Homo sapiens: one gene and its partner. The protein of the gene in region 1 interacts with the protein of each later gene in a biochemical or structural test. Each region holds a gene or a part of one and is shown on either strand. Other genes may lie near its edges.

What was found. The genes of interacting proteins can lie anywhere in the genome.
Region 2: the proteins of KCNIP3 (region 1) and GRK6 form a complex in vitro, tested with the Homo sapiens proteins (one study listed by BioGRID).

The regions. Positions count from the first base shown.
Region 1 is NC_000002.12:95,292,745-95,300,681, reverse strand, and holds the start of KCNIP3 (calsenilin), read right to left. Parts: upstream 3,336-7,937; 5' UTR 3,244-3,335; coding exon 3,229-3,243; intron 1-3,228. UniProt on the Homo sapiens protein: Calcium-dependent transcriptional repressor that binds to the DRE element of genes including PDYN and FOS. Affinity for DNA is reduced upon binding to calcium and enhanced by binding to magnesium. Seems to be involved in nociception.
Region 2 is NC_000005.10:177,429,013-177,436,860, reverse strand, and holds part of GRK6 (G protein-coupled receptor kinase 6), read right to left. Parts: intron 5,990-7,848; coding exon 5,894-5,989; intron 5,151-5,893; exon of another isoform or gene 4,925-5,150; coding exon of another isoform or gene 4,867-4,924; coding exon 4,754-4,866; intron 4,629-4,753; coding exon 4,551-4,628; intron 4,156-4,550; coding exon 4,055-4,155; intron 3,715-4,054; coding exon 3,622-3,714; intron 3,515-3,621; coding exon 3,451-3,514; intron 3,326-3,450; coding exon 3,185-3,325; intron 2,948-3,184; coding exon 2,757-2,947; intron 1,960-2,756; coding exon 1,922-1,959; intron 1,830-1,921; coding exon 1,740-1,829; intron 789-1,739; coding exon 580-788; intron 469-579; coding exon 331-468; intron 1-330.

The sequences.
Region 1 (7,937 bases):
CTCAGATGACAGACGCACCTGCTCAAAGGCAACATCAGTCAGCTGAGGCCGGGAGCCCTGGGCAGGAAGCAGCACGGGACTCGCCCCATGCTGTGCCCTCCCCCGACTCTCAGGCTCCTGCCTGCCCCAGGTCTGGGCACTAGGCCAGAAAGACGTGCTAACTTCTCTCCCCTCTTCTGCTTCACCTTGGAAACTGAGAGTGCTTTCTTCCGTGCAGAAGCCACATTGGCTGCTCCTGGAAGTCACTGGGATGCCCAGGGGTGGGCTGGGGAGGGCAGGGGGGCTCTAAGGCCCCTCTGCTAAGTCAGTAAAGCAGTTCCCTGCCTCACACAGAAGGTCTTGATAAGACAAGGCAGCCTGAATTTAAAATGTTGGGGTCCTTTACTTCCTAGCTCTGGATCCACAGTCCAAAAATGGGAGGCAGCTAGCTCCAGGTCACGTGGCTAACGCAGGGGATGCGGCCAGGTGGAGTCTGGCTTGTGTGCACTCACTGGAGGGCTCAGAGGGCACAACAGACCACCGGCCGCACGGCTGGGATGGGCCCCTCCTCTGCCATCTGGTTAAAGGCATGCCCTTCTCCTCCTGCGTCTTCTTCCGCAACCCCCAAGCCCTAGGGACTTGCTGCGCTCTGGAGTAAGACAGAGCAGGGTTCAAATCTCAGCCACAACTCTTGTAGCCTGCAGTCTGGGGCAGGCCTCTGTTTCCCCATCTGTGAAGTGGGGATGATACCAACAGCTGCCTTGTGGGCTGCGTGAGGGTCCAGGGAGATAATGCGGGAGACAATGTCCTAGATGGGCGTTGGTACCCTCAGGCTTCTGGCTCTCAGCTCTGCCCTTCTCCTGGGCTCTACCTGGAGGGCTGAGGCAGAGCCCCTTTCTTCCCAGTGCAGCCTGGGGTCTTTTGAAATGTGGGAGCAAATTAGGGCCCATCTCGCACAGTGCCCTGCAACAAGGCTGGAAGCCAGGCAAAAGGGGTTCCCAGTGCACGGGCTGAGCTGTGAAGACACCACAGCCTCAACACCGCGACAGCAGCGCCTGTCGCAGAAACTGCGGGTCTTTCGCTCCTTTCTCCTAAGAGCTCATGGGATCAAGCTCATGGAGTCCTGGAGCTGTTCCAGTTTTCTGAGCCTCAGTGTCTAGAATAGGAATGGCAGTGCCTCCCCGCCTCCCCATAGGAGTGAGGTGAGAATTCATGAATGGCTGGGGAGTAGGCTAGGGAGCCGGGCAGTCATGGGGCGTTACTGGGGGACAGCCACTGACCGTGACCCTGAGGAGTCAGAACACCTCCCAACCTGAGCTCTGACTACAGTCCCTGCTGCCACAAGAGAGGAAGGTTATTTTTCACAATCTCCCATTGATCTTGATGAGAAACCTAATGGTGGCTTCTCCTAGGACCACTGTCTCTGCTGGGCCCAGCACCAGGAGGTGTGGGTCCCACTCCCCTCCCTGGCCAGGCCAGCCACAGGAAGGCCACCAGCAGACATAAGGACAGTGAGACCCACTGGGGCCCAGGAGCTGGTTGTGGGAGGGTAGAGCGCAGTGTGGGGTCACAATGGCCAAGGGAAGAACCAGATGTAAGTGCAGGACTCAGGCCACCCACTCTGCCAGTCTGGCAGGGGCAGGAGTGGCCAAGCTCCCAGAGTGACCTTTGGCAGTTAAGGCCCGCAGAGGAAAGGCAAAGGAGGGGAGGACTGTCTTCTGCTGGAGGTCAGAGCTGGCTGTGTGCACATCTGTGTGCAGCCTGACTCTGGAAATTCCCATCTCTGTAGTCATGCAGGGTCGCTCAATGTGTCTCTGCCTATGGGCACGGTTGCACTGTGCACCCTGACGCCGTAGTGTGTGAGCCTGGGGCAAGGCGCTACGTTTCTCCACTCTGCCCTGCCTGCATGGTGGTTGCTGGGGAGACTTGAGGTGACAGGAGAGAAGGCACATTTTCCATGTGTAGTGTTGCCATGCTCAAAGGGCTTCATGCCATCACCTCAGCTGATCCTCTTGGCACCCTGGAAGATGGAGCAGATAGCACAAGGGAGGCCTGGGGTTTGGGGGCAGTGTGGTCCAAGCCAGCCACCCGCCCATGCTTGGATGCTTGTCCTCACAGATGAAAGAGGCAGGAAGCCATCTGTTCAGGGCAGAGACGCTGAGGTGCCAACCCCATATCCCTTCTTTCCTACATTCAAGACCCTGATTGTCTCTGGGTCCTTTTGCCCTTCTTTCTTTCTCCTTCCTGCTCATATGTCAGTATGAGCCCATGTGTGCTGGCTGGAGCTCCAGCAGTTATGTTGCACCTTAAGGTAACCTCAGGGGTGATACAGGGCAGGCCTGAAATGCTGCTGATCAGGCGGCCTCCAAGCCAGCCCTCCACTGCCCCTCTGGACTTCTGCATGAGAGAGAAACCCCGCTAACCTTGTTCCATCCACTGTTATTTGGGGCGTTCTGTTATGAGCAGCCAGACCTGAACTATCCTGAATGTGTGAGCAGCTCACAGGGCATCAGGCCAGACCTTTTGAGAGTCAGCTAGAGGCTGGAGGGCCAGCTTATTTCTCCTTCCCTCATTCCTCCTTTAATTCTTCACCCTTCCCTGTTCCCCACCACTGTTTCTCAAACTCTGTGCCAGGCGTTTTCCTTGCATTCTCTCTCTGACCTCCCCACAGCCCTACTGAAAGGGAATGTGTGGGAAGTGCTCTTGTTAGGGGCTCCTAGCCCTTTCAGAGGAAGTGGGCACTCATTCGTTACTTGATTGCTTGATTAGAAGATGCGTTCATTGACCAACCTCCAAGCACAAGTGACTCCCTCCCAGGCTCACCCCTCCCCCAAACCTGAAGGCTGTGGGGCCCGGGCTCAGTGTCAGCCACGCTGGCACCTGACCCAGGGACCTAACTGAGCAGGATGAGTCGTGGGCTGACCCCAAGCTCCTCCTCTGTCCAGCTTTTCTTCCGCAAACACTTATAAACCTCTCCCATCCAAAGGGAGCCCTAGGAGTTCAGCCTCCCAGCCAGGACACCCCAACACCAGCCAGGACACCCCAACGCCAGCCAGGACACTCCAACACCAGCCAGGACACCCCAGCGCCAGCCAGGACGCCCCAACGCTCACTTTCCCCAAAGGAAAGTGGAACAAGAGGGGACAAGGGTCAAAGAAAAAGGCTTCCTGGTCCAGAGCAACCCCCAGAAGCCTCCATTCCTCCCCCCGACCCCCCTCCAGAGCAAGACCCCATTCCCCCAGCACCTACCTTAGCCGGCTGCATCCTGGGCGCTGAAGAAAACTGTTGCCAGCCTCCCCACTTCACAGCCGAGGCAGACAAGACTGCCCAGGCCGGCTGGCAGCTGCCTCATGTTTGCTTGGACCCAGACGTAATTGTCAACGGCGGCTTCTCGCCCTCCCCCTGCCCACCCCTTCCTCCCTGCCGGCTTCTATCGCTCCACCCCTCTGCCTCCTCGCTCCCTCCCTTTCTCTCTTTCTCTCTCTCTCTCTCTCTCCCCTCTTTCTCTCTCTCTCTCTCCCCTCTTTCTCTCTCTCTCTCCATGGCCCCTAATCCTGGTCTCTCAGAGCCTGTCCAAGCCTCTGTCTGGCTCTCCTGGCCTCTCCCCTACCCTGTCACCAGCGGCTCTCTGTGCCTCCCCTGCCCGCTGCCTCTTTCTCTGCTCCTTGCCCTTTTTGGTCACCAAGGAGGAATGGGGGTAGAGGGTGCAGGGAGCTGGGGCTGGGGAGAGGGGAGTTCAGGGCAGGAGTTTCTGCCCCAAGAAGTGGGGAGGAGCAGCAGTTGAACCCAGAGTGCCCAGGAGGGACTGTGGAAGTGGAAAAGGAAGGGATCATTCCTGGAGGTATTTTCCAGAACAAGCCAGGACACCCCCACTGCCCCAGTCCCGCCTGCCACTCTTCACAGACACAGGACAGTGCCACCCTTATGATGATCTCAGCCCAAGGGGCCCCCAGGACAGCAGGGAGCCACTGCACCCAGCATCTGAAGCGTCCTCTCTCAGGGTCCTGGCCTGAGGTGCTGGTCTGCAAGGTGCTGGTCTGGGGCTCACATCCTAGAAACAGCAACAGCCACCAGGGCTACATCAGCAGGGTGACACTCAGGGTCCTTCCACCTCTTTCATCTGTCCCTTATTAACTACCTCCCATTCACCCATCCGAGGGCCTCGAAGCACGGGTGTCTCCCCAAAGCATGACCTGCTCATGCTCTCCAGCTGTGCTGGGTCCCCTCCCAGCTCCCAAGTCAGGATGCATCCAGGGTGGCTGAGGACCTGACGGGATCTCCTGGGGTGTGAGGGTGAAGGATGGGGCCGAGGGCTCCCAGGCATCCCTGAGAGAGGGGGCTGTGTCCTGTCCCTTGGGCGGGCAGCTCCTGGGCATTTGCTTGGCCCCCAAGCAAACCACTCAGGAGCCAGGTGCCTGAAACCTTTGCCAAGTTTCCCTTTTTGGAGCCCAGAGGAGCCAGCCTGTGCCAGTAGTTCCCATGGAGACGAAGCCCTAGGATGCCTCCCTCCTTTGCAGCCTGCACAATTGTGCTTGCATGCCCTTTTCCTTTTTTTTTTTTTTTTTTTTTGAGCCAACCAATTACCTCCAACTTTCAGATCCTCAGGGGAAGAAAATAGCCTGGAGCTGTCGACCCACCGAGGCAAGGAGGACTGTTTCCAGAGGGGAGGTGGCAGCCCAGGTGTCTGGCCCTGTGCGACTTCAGAACAGGCTGGACTTCACACTGGGGAAGGGGCTCGGCAGAGCCCGGAGGACTCCCTAGCTGCCCCCGCCCCACCCACACTGCACCCTAGGAAGTGGAGGGAGGCAAGCGCCTTCATGGCTGCCAGCTCAGGGCCGGCATCCTGGGAGCTCATCTGCTTTTTTTTTTTTTTTTTTTTTTTTTGAGACAGGGTCTCACTCTCTCACCCAGGCTGGAGTACAGTGGTATGATCATGGCTCACTGCAGCCTTGACCTCCCAGGCTCAAGCAATCCTCCTATTTCAGCCTCCCAAGTAGCTGGGACTACAAGGCTCATGCCACCATGCACGGCTAATTTTTGTATTTTTTCGTAGAGATGGGGTCTCACTATGTTGCCCAGGCTGGTCTCAAAGTCTGGGGCTCAAGTGATCCACCTGCCTCTGCCTCCCAAAGTGCTGGAGTTCCAGGCATGAGCCACCGTGCCCAGCCCCATCCTCCTTTCACTGCCTGAGACAGTCCTGCCCTCCTGACTCTGAGCAAGCCTCGCCTCCGCAAGCAGGGACGCATTGAGCATTTTGAGTCCTCATAGTGACCTTGGGAGAAAAGTGTAATTATCTCACTCTACAGATGATAATGGTGAGACCCAGAAAAGCTAAAAGACTGGCCCAAGTCACAGGCTAGGGAGTGGTAAAGCCAGGTCCCAAAGCCTGTTGCCTTCTTCCTAGAGTGAGCACCGTGGATGCTGAGATCCCGCTGGCGGTTCTATGCCCACGGCTTACACAGCAGCTTGGAAACTTGGTGACTGCACTGCCGTGATGGGCTGGTCTTCCTGACGGCCTGGCCGGAGGAGTCAGGAGCAGAGGAACCCACTCATCACAGCAGCACCCCCAAGAGCTGCTCGCCCCTGCTTGGCACACTCGCTGACATCCCACACTCAGATGCGCTGTCCTCGGAGTTCACCAGCCGTGACACCGCGGGCCTGGGACAACTGCCCTGCTCTGCTGGACCCACCGGCTGTTCGGGCCTTGCGAACCTCCCACTGCAGCTAGCACCTGGGTGGACACCCCTCATACAGATGTGGGGCGTATGTGACCCTGCCACCACACCCCCCTTCCTCAGTGGCCTATCCAGGGCCCCAAGTGCTTCCAGCTGGGTCCCTCCCCTGGGCCTGTGGGGAACACAGGAATGAGAAGGGGAGGAGAAAGGGGGCTGGACTCCCACATGGGCCTCAGAGGCGGACCTGTTGTGGGCACACGGGCATCTGCAGACTTCCCAGAGACGGCCTTGGCAATTCCCAGTATTCTCTGCGGTATATCAGACCCACAGAAGGTTAAGGAGGCTGTGGAAGGACCTGGTCTTGTCCACTAGGAACGCTTCAGCCCTGTGTTTCCCACTGTGGTTTCCTCACATAGGGGCTGTGGGGAGAAACTGAGGCTGGGGGGAGTTTGGAAGTGGGAAAGGAAGGGATGATTTCAAGCCCGGATGAAGGTCGGGTTTTCTCTCGTCACAGTGTTTCAGGAGGCAGTCGTGGGCTGTTTCAGCTGACCAGGGCCTTCATTCTTGTCCTTCCCCGGGCGAGCGGCTCATGGTGCTCATGCCCACAGGTCTTGGGGGCCTCTGCGCCTTCCTCCATTGTTGCTCATGATCCCACATTCCAGGCCCAAATTCAAGTCCCTCCTCCCCAGGCCTCCAAACGCAACTCTGTGGAGCCCCAGCCCAGGGCTCTTTTCCTTAGGCCCTATTTTTTGTTGGGCCCTGGCTGAGGGGTACAGGGGGAGAGAGAGAGAGCTGAGGGGTACAGGGGGGAGAGAGAGAGAGAGACAGAGAGAGAGAGAGAAAGCCTCGCCAGCTGGGTGCATCTTGGTAAGAAAATACAAATGGTCCTCATCACTTCACATCACAAAACACAGGCTCAGCCCCCATCGAAGCCCATGCCATCATCAACTCTCCTGCTCCCCACCCAGCTCAGGCCTGGGGGTGGCAGCTTGGGGCAGGCAGTGGGCATGGCAGCCTCTGGCTGAGCTGCGCTCTGGGTTTGCAGAGGTTGAGAGCTGTCCCTCTTTCTCTGTGGGCTCCTCCAAGGGTCCTAAGAGCCTGGCCCCATGGTCCCCTGACTAGAGTGTTTCACATGGGCCTCAGGGGACCCATAAGCCCCCAATACTTAGTGGCAGCTCTGCCTCCTCTTGGCTGAGGTCGGTTCACTCTCTGGGCAGCCTCCTTCGACTGGACCTAGGAGACTCCATGCTGTCTCTCACAGGAGGCCCTCACCTGGGCCGCCAGCCCTCTCCTTAGCTCCGCCTTCAATGCAGCCAGCCTGACTGCCCTCTAGACTTTGCAGTGGGTGAGGCATCAGTCCAAGGGATTTATTAAACTGCAGGGGACACGGTGAAGCTCTCTGGCGGCTTTCTTTAAAGCCCCTTTCCTTGCAGCTTGAAGTGAAGAGAGGGCGGCCGACCGCACCCCTTGGACTCAGCTCGCCTCTCTGAAACCTCCCTCCTCTAACCTCAGCGCCTGACTCCTTGGCTCCCACTCCAGCCCTTAGTGTGGGTAGGGGCTCAGCCACCTCTTCCCTAAATTCTGCTTCACTCGTGGGCAGAAGCCAAGGGCTCGGACGGGGCCCCACCCTCTGCACACCCCCTCCATCCCTCCTCATCCGAGCTGCAGTTCTCGGTCAGCATTTGTAAGACGGATGAGTGTGGACCACCCCAGGACGGGCACACCCAGCATATGCTAGGAAGGGCTGGGACCACGGAGAAGGAGCTTTATTCCGGCAGCATGTGCTGTGTGCACCAGGTTGGCCACTAGCCTCCTGGTTCAGCTCCTGGCACTCAGGCTAGAAGCGATGGACGACTCTGGCTCAGGGAGAGTAGGGAAGGGGGATGCTGTCCACATCCGCCCAGATCAGGGCCTCAGGCTGATTCCAGAAGACTCAGATGTGGCCTGAGTGGCACTGTTCTCGGCTGATTCATTCGGATGAGCGTTGCCCTTTCCACTCCGCCCACATCCAGTCTGTGTGCCTGAGCTTTCTCAACTGTCAGGCAGGTAAATAACAATGCCTGCCTCCCAGTTAATTCATGGAAAGTGCTTCCTGACTTATGCTCAGAACTCCGTAAATAAATGTTAACTCACATTGTTTGTCCCTTCAGGTAGTTGGGCAGGCTCTTGCCCCAGCCACTTGGCTCTCCCTTTGTACACCTCAAGCCAGCTGGAGCTGCCCTGAGCAGCCACCTGGGACCTTAGACACCTTGGCCCATCTGGCATTTGTTTGGCAGAATCTAC
Region 2 (7,848 bases), on another chromosome or scaffold:
ACTGTGGTGGCTGAGCTGCTGGGGCCCACTGCTGCCGCACCATGGGGAGAGCTACCCCAATATGAAGACTACACACTCAACGGTACAGTGAGGGGAAGGAGAGAGAGTTCCTAGGACATTGTCAGAGGCTCCAAGCCCCATCCAGGCATGCCACAAGCCAGACCCATCCTGGGGCTTTTCCTTTTTGTGAATTATCTTTATTTCTGTGGCTAAGCCACTAGATTGTTTTTTCTGCCACTTGCACTGGAAGCATCCTGGCTGATACTACAAGAGCCCCTGAGCCCCAGCCCTGGCTGGGCCCCGCCCTCAGCAGGAGTGGGCTGCACTCACGTCAGGCTTGAACGGCGGCTCCAGCATGCCAGCTCCCAGCCGCTTGAAGTTCAGCTTCTTAAAGAGGGGGTGCTCCTTCACCTCGCGGGCACTGCCCCCACGACACCCCAGGCGTTCGGCAGGGTCCTTGCAGAGGAGCTGTGGCAGGGGTGAGTCGGCCAGGCAGGCCAGGCAGGTGAGTGGGTGGGAGGGAGGGAAAGGTGCATCCACCCCAGCCCTGGCTGGCCAGGCTTCTGTGAGCTGCCGTACCTGTGAGCAAAGTGAGCGGGCCTGCGGGGAAAAGCGCTCGGAATACTCCTCGGGGACCTCCTTCACCAGCCGCTCCACCTCCTCCCGCTTGATCTTCTTCTTCCTCTGCTGGAAGGGCGACTGGCCTGCGATCATCTCGTACAGGAGGCAGCCGAGCGCCCACCAGTCAGGGCTGAACGTGTACCGTTCATTCTTCACCACCTCCGGAGCTGGGCGGGCGGCATGGGAGTTAGGGCTGGGCAGGAGGCGGGCAGTGGACCCTCAGGCCCCAGGAACGCCAGTGCACGTTAGGTCTGGGATACACTCACACCCGCTGGCCAGGGGGGACCTTGGCCAGTAGGAGAGCACAGGCCCCATCAAGCGGGGTGAATACGGCCCTGCAGGAGGCCGCGCCCAGGGTCCCCGGGTCTTCAGATTTTACACAAGAAGTCAGAAATCTGTATTTTGTATGTGAAACCATCTGGCTTACTAAAAACAGTTTGACTTAAACACAAATGTAGGCCAAATTGGGCCCATGTGGCTACCATTTTGCAACTTCTGGATTTAATATCAGCGAGAAGAAGGAAACTCCTATTTTCTGAATACCTCCTACCTGCCAGGGCAGCCCTGTGGGGAGTTTTCCCTGAACTCTCCCTTTTCATCTTCCAGGCAGCCCTGGGAGGCAGGTATGATGAGTGTTTTCCAGTGGAGCAGAGTGAGGCCGGGAGCAGCGGAGTGTCTGGTTCAAGGCCACGCAACCGGCAAGAGGCGGAGCCTGCAGAGCCAGGACTCTGCCTCCTGCGTCTCTCGGTCTCCAGGTGGAATGTGGGGCCTCATGTTGGCCCCTCCACTGGCCTCCCTCACAGATGGGCACAGGGAGGGCAGGGACTGGGGCCACGGAAACAGGTTTGGGTCTCTCTCCTCCATCCCCCGGTAGCCACCTGCAGGCTCAGCCATAGCAGGGTTTAATAAGTATTCAGCAAATGAACGACATGGCTTCACAACTGTGTGCGGCCCCGGCTGAGTCTTGGTCTCCTAACCTCTAGAAGAGGAGCATCGGCATGGGCCCTTTCTACTGAGGCCCCTTTTGAGAGAAGACTCCCAGACAGAAGTGGGTGTGGCTGGGTGGGTGGATAGTGAGGGAACCCAGGAGGCTAGTGGGCCGGGCAGAGAAGACTCACCCATGTAACCCACGGTGCCCACACGCCCTTTGATGGTCTGGCCCTCGGGCACATGCACAGCTAGTCCCAGGTCAGAGATGCGGATGTGGCCTGAGTGTGGGTGGAGAAACAGGTGGACCCGTTAACAGGCCAGGCCTCTGCATCTCACCCCACCCTGACCCACCCCAGGCACCCTTACACACCGTGGTCATCCAGCAAGATGTTCTCGGGCTTCAGGTCCCTGTGCAGAGAGAAGAGCAGGGTCAGATGCTGCTCAGTTTGCCAGGGAGTCAGAAGGGGCCAGCCCCCCCAGCTCACTCGCCTCCGGGGGCCAGGTGTGGAGCAAGGTGCGAGACTCATTTGCTGCCAGGGCGACAGACAGCCCTGCTCTCCCTGGCAACAGCCCGGACTCAAGGGAGCAGAGGAAGGATCTAGAGCCAGGACTCCCAGGACTCTCTAGATGAGTGGAAGACAGCTCCACCCCGGAGGGGCCTCCCCAGTGGAGACCAAGGAGTCTCCACCCCTTGGTGACTGACTCTGCCTTTCCTCTCTATCAAATGGGACTACTCATCCGTCCCCTGACTAGGCTGTTGTGAGGTTCACAGGAAGTCGGCAACAATCAGAGCCAGGGTTCTCTCTTACCCAGCCCCATGTGCCAGGCACTCTGTACTTAGCTCACTGGGCCCCTCCAGTAGGAAGTTGGGCCTACTTCTAACAACCTGGGAAGTAGGAATTATAGTCTCTGCTTCCTAGAAAAGGAAGCAGTGTTGGGAGCAGGGAGCTCCTGGCCCAAGGTCACACGGTGGGGGGTGGAGGGGTGACAAAGTCAGGATACCCCGTGGGTCCAGCAGAGCCCAAAGCCTAGGTCTGGGCTACTCAGGTTGGCCTGGCGTGTGAGTTAAGCCGGTGCCACAGCCCCCAAACCAATGTCCTTCTGTAGTCTGGCCTGATCGGCAGCCTTGGCCACCCCCGTCCAGGCCCAGCTGCAGTCGCTGGCAGGGAAGGACTAAGCCCCTGGGGTGGCCGAGCCCTCCCCACCTGTACACGATGCGCTCCCGGTGCAGGTCCTCCAGGCCACAGCAGATCTCGGCGGCGTAGAAGACGGCCCGCGCTTCGGGGAAGCCAGCCTGGCCCATGTGGTAGATGTGGAACTTGAGGTCGCCCCCGTTCATCAGTGTCAGCACCAGGCACAGCGCGTCCTTGGTCTCATAGGCGTAGGCCAAGCTCACCTGTGGCCGAGGGGACCCGAGCCCTCAGGCAGGAGCTGCGGGGCGCTTGGCGGCAGGGCTGCCCAAAAAAGCCTTCTCGGTGCCACTCCTTGGGCCCAGCCTGCTCCCCAAGCCTGGTGTCAACACCCCAAACCCGCCCTTCCTGGCATCCCACATGGGAGGGTGGGGCCTGGGGGGTGGGGACGGTCGGTGCGCCAGTGTGGCCAAGGGGAAGGGAGAGTCTCCTTCTGTACTTACTACAAACCTACTGTTCACTTTCTCCAGGATCTGCTTCTCGTTCAGCGCCATGGCCTCCCCTTTCCGCTTCTTGATCCGCTTTTTCTCTAGCTTCTTGCAGGCATACATCTTACCTGTGGCCCGCACCTGGCAGGCGCACACCTGTGGCCAGACAGACAGGGGCGAATGGGGGCCAGCTGTGCCATTGCTGGGCATCCAGGGGGTGGTCCAGGTCCCAACACACCCACCCTATTCACTCTCCCAGGGGCTCTGGCCTGGCCACTCACCTCCCCAAAGCCACCTTTGCCCAGGACTCGGTATTGCCTGAAGGTGTTTTTGGTCACTGGCTGCCTGTGGCAAGGGGTGGGGAAGCAAACGCTGGCTGAGCAGGAGAGCCCAAGGCCTATGAAGAACCCCGGCGACCTGGCCTGTCCCGGCCCAGCCTTCAGGGAGCTCACCTTTCCAGCCACTTCCACTGCAGGAAACGGTTGAAGTAGATGCTGTCGAGGTAGTCGGCAAAAGGGGCCACGCTCAGGTACTCGTGGGTCAGCCTGTTGAGGAAAGGCAGGCCCAGCTCACCCGCCAGCCCCTGACACCTCAGGCTCTTGGCTTGCTGGGCCAGGCCTCCCGTTCTGTACAGGCTTAGCCCACAGGTATCGTCGTCGGCCAGTCCTCCTGCTAACCCCTGAGCGGGGAGACACACAGCCTGTGCTGAAGCTGTGGGTGCTACTGAGAGGGGAGGCAGCCTGCTCAGGTCACACAGCAGGGGCAAGGCCAGGGCTGGGCAGCTGAGCTCCCTCACCAGCCACCGAGCTGTTCACAGTCTTCCTGGCCCCCAGAAGCCCCCTCCGCTGGGCATAATTCCAGGCTTGTGGGCAGGGACAGGCTTACCGGGTGAGTTCCTGGAAAAGGTCTTTGCAGGGACCCTGCTCCAGCCGCTGGGTGCAGTTCGTCACCAGCTGCCGGGGGACCTCAGGGATGAGGTCAGGACCCTGGGAACAAGCCCCAGACAGGTCAGTGCAGGGGCTCCCTTGGATGGCTGCCCACTTCCAGGGGAGAGGGGTCAGGCAACTCGGGCTGGTGCCATGAGAGGCTGCAGGCCAGGGTGTGCCAGCCAGCCTGGTTGCTGAAGTCCTTCCTGCTGCCCACCCATGAGGCAGAGCGCAGCAGAGCCACTGGGAGGCCGCCTGGCCCAAGCCCAGCCCATACCCTGGGCTGCATGCCCGCCGTGCTGCCTGGAGCAGCTCCAGGGCACTCTCTGTCCAGGCTGTGTGTTACATGTGTCTGTATGAAGAGACCACCCTCAGAAGCCTGACACTGTGGTCACTCCTGTGCCTGACACGGGGCTCTGGTGGCTCCCATCATCTCTCCATCGCTGCTCACTCACCGTGTGGCTCAGAAAATTCTGCGTTAGCTGCCGCCCACATGCCTTCCGCTTGTCATCCGGGGTCACTTCATACTCGGCCTGCAGGGTGGAAAGCAAAGAAGCTGGAGGTCTGGGCAGGGCAAGCAGCAGGTGTGGGGAGGAGGGGCACATGGGGCCAGGACCTCGGCCACCCGCGGGGCTGGGCAGGGCTGGGCTGCACTCACCACCCCATCCAGGAAGGCGACGCAGCGGCTCAGCTCCGGCCTCGTGGCACAGAACTCTCGGAACAGCAGGCGCCCAATGGGCTGCCGCTCGCACAGGCTGTGATAGTCACGCTCTGTTGGCAGTGATGGAAGCTGCTGGGTCCACAGCCCGAGAGCACATGGGTGGGGCATGTGCCCACACCACCAGGCCCTGGGCCCCCACAACAGCTTCCAGCTCTGCAGTGTGGTAGCCACAATCTTCTTCAGAACCCTCACCACAACCCTCAGGTGGGCACAGCTGTTTTGGGGCTGTGAGGCCCAGAGAGGCTAACTGACTAGCTCAGTGTCACACAGCCGGGAGTCTGGCTCCAGAGCCCAGGCCTCCATCCACCTCCCTGCATTGTCTCCTGATTTACACGACTTGCGTATGTCACGGTACTGGGGTTGGGTGCGGTCCGTGAGGTTCCGGCCCAGCCCAGCCGGGGCCAGGCCCACACCTGCTGCCTGCCTGGCGAAAGTGCGAGAGGAAGCTGTGGCTTCCGGCAGGCTCTCAGCTGGGCCTCCTTCCCAGGAGGTGGAAGCAGCCCGGGTGTGCTCTGCGCACGTGCAGGCCACCGGGGGCCTCAGCAACCTTGGGTGCTGCTCAGACCTGGGGCCTTGGCCAAGATTGGCAGGAACTGGGGTCCTGGGCCCTTCTGTCCCCTCCCAGGAGTAACCCTGTCACACTGCCCAGGCTGAGGGCTTCTGGTCAAGGATTTGCTGGGCACCCCTCAGGGCTGGGCCTGGGAGGCTACGCCCCAGCCTGGGGGTCCCAAGGCAGTCAGTCTGTGGGCTGGCCCAGCTGCTGCTCCCTCTGTCCTGTGGGCCCTGCTCACCCTAGCTGGCTCTCCTTTTCAAAGTGGAATCAACTGCCCCAATCTGCCCCTGCCCTATTCCCGACACCCGCTTCAACCACCCTCGGTGTGACCCTGTTTGCTGTCTGCTCTCCACCCGTCCCAAGCCCAGGAACTGAAACTGGGCTGAATGGTGCAGTCCTCATCCTCCTGCTCACTGGAGCCCCCAAGTCTGCCCCTCTGCTCCGGGGCAAGGTCTCAGGGGAGGCTCCCCCGGCCCCAGCAGGGCCCCTCGCCTCAGCACCCCCAGTCTCTGCCCAGGCCTCACCGAGGCTGAGCCGCAGCTCTTCGCACTGGCTGATGTGAGGGAACTGGAGCATCTGCCGCCATTTCTTGCTTTTGCCTTTGCGATTTCCACCGCCACCTGTGGGAGCAATAGGACACTGGGTCTCGAGTCCCACTGCCTCAGAACTGCCTCTGGGTCCTCAGTGCGGTCCACGGCCTCTAGGGCCCAGCCAAGGCAGAGCTGAGGCAGAACAGCACCTCAGGCCTTCCCTCTGCACGCTCCAGCACGCCCTTGCTGCGTTCCAGGACACACGTGCTTCTCCTGCTTCAGGCTCCTGCACTGGGAGAGCCAAGAGAGGCAGTGAGGTCGCTGCGGGAGGACAGTGTTCCAAGTAGCTCCAACAATGGGTCCAGCCCCAGTTGCTTCCCGCCAGGTAGGAGTTCCCCCGGTGAAGAAAGGGGAGAAGGACGTCACAGTGCTGAGAAGTGCAGAAGGCCCGGGAGGGAGAGATTCTAGGCCAGTGGGGCAGGCCTGAGAGACGCACAGGGCAGCATGGGGACAAGGAGGCTCCCAGGCCTCTATCACCAGGCCCCACATCAGAGATATCAGACGCTCAAATGAGGCAGGGGCAAGGGGGCTGGCACCCAGGACTCCCCGTCCCCTGCACACTGGGGCTTCCCCGGTCCCCTGCCTGTCTTGCTTGACCTCGCAGACACCCCATCTGCAGCAGCTGAGGTCACAGCAGCAGTTCGATTGCCTGCAGAGCCCAACAGGTGTGGGAAACGTGGGCCAGATGTGAGATGACCAGGAACAGCGAAGGCCTCTCTGACAGGGCCAGCTGCAGGAGAACGCCAGCTGATTGCTTGATTGCTGCTAGGAGGGTTTCTGGCTCAATGTGGCCAGCTCTTCTGATTTTTTCAAAAGCAGCCGGAATTGCAGACTCTAACATAAAATATTGGCCCCCATTTTGTTTAAAAAAAAAAAAAAACTCACTGCAGCCAAATAAAATGTGTCAGGGAGCTAGCCAAATGTGTGTGGCCTGTGGGCCACCAGGTTGAGGAGGGTGGAAGGGGCCTGAGCCTCCCAGAGCTGGGTCTGAATCTCTGATTCACACTGTGGCCCATCACTCGCTATCTGTGAACCTCAGCTTCTCCATGTGTGTTACGTAGTGAATGGGAGACACTGTCCACATCAAGTAGGGCTGAGTCAAGAGGTGAACCCCAACTCCAACAACGCCATGGCAACCTTAGACAACCACTTTCTCATGCTGGGCCTCAGTTTCCCCTCTGGCTTTCTAGTCCTGTATCCATCTGGCCTGGGTGAGGGCAGGTGGTACAAGGGCAGAAGTTGCCTTCTAGGGAGGGGGCAAGGCTAGGTCCCTAGATGACTCCCCGACCTAAGCTGCCTGGAGAAGGAAGTACTGCAGGGGCCCATTGAGAAACTTGCTAGAGGCCTCCTGCGAACATGCCCTGCAGTCATTGCTTCACTGTGAGTGAGCAACAGACACCCACCCCTCAACCCAGGGCAAGGCCTTCCCAGAAGGGGAACTCCTCCCCCACACCCACAGGTCCCTCACCCAACCCTCCATCCGCCAGCCTCCCACCCTCAGTTACTTCCTCCTCCCCCCTCCCAGCCACATCAAGGCAGCAGCAAAGAGTCACATGCAAATATCCTGTCCTGGGCTGCCCAGTCAGTGGAGCTCTTCCCCACCCTCCCTGTCCCCTTTCAGTGTCCCTGGGCCCCCTCCCCATGCCTCTGAGTGCCTGGGAAGAGAAGGGGTACTGAGGGAGGTCTCAAGCCCCAGCGTTGTCCCACTCCATCCTCACAGCAACTCTGCCAGAGCAGGCCCAATTTTATATGAAAACTGAGATTCTGAAGTGAGGAATCAATTCACCCAAGATGACCAAGCCCAGAGTATACCCAAGATGACCAAGCCCAGAGACCAATCCTGGGTACAGGATTCGTACCCAGCTCCCTATGGCCACAACCCAAGCTCC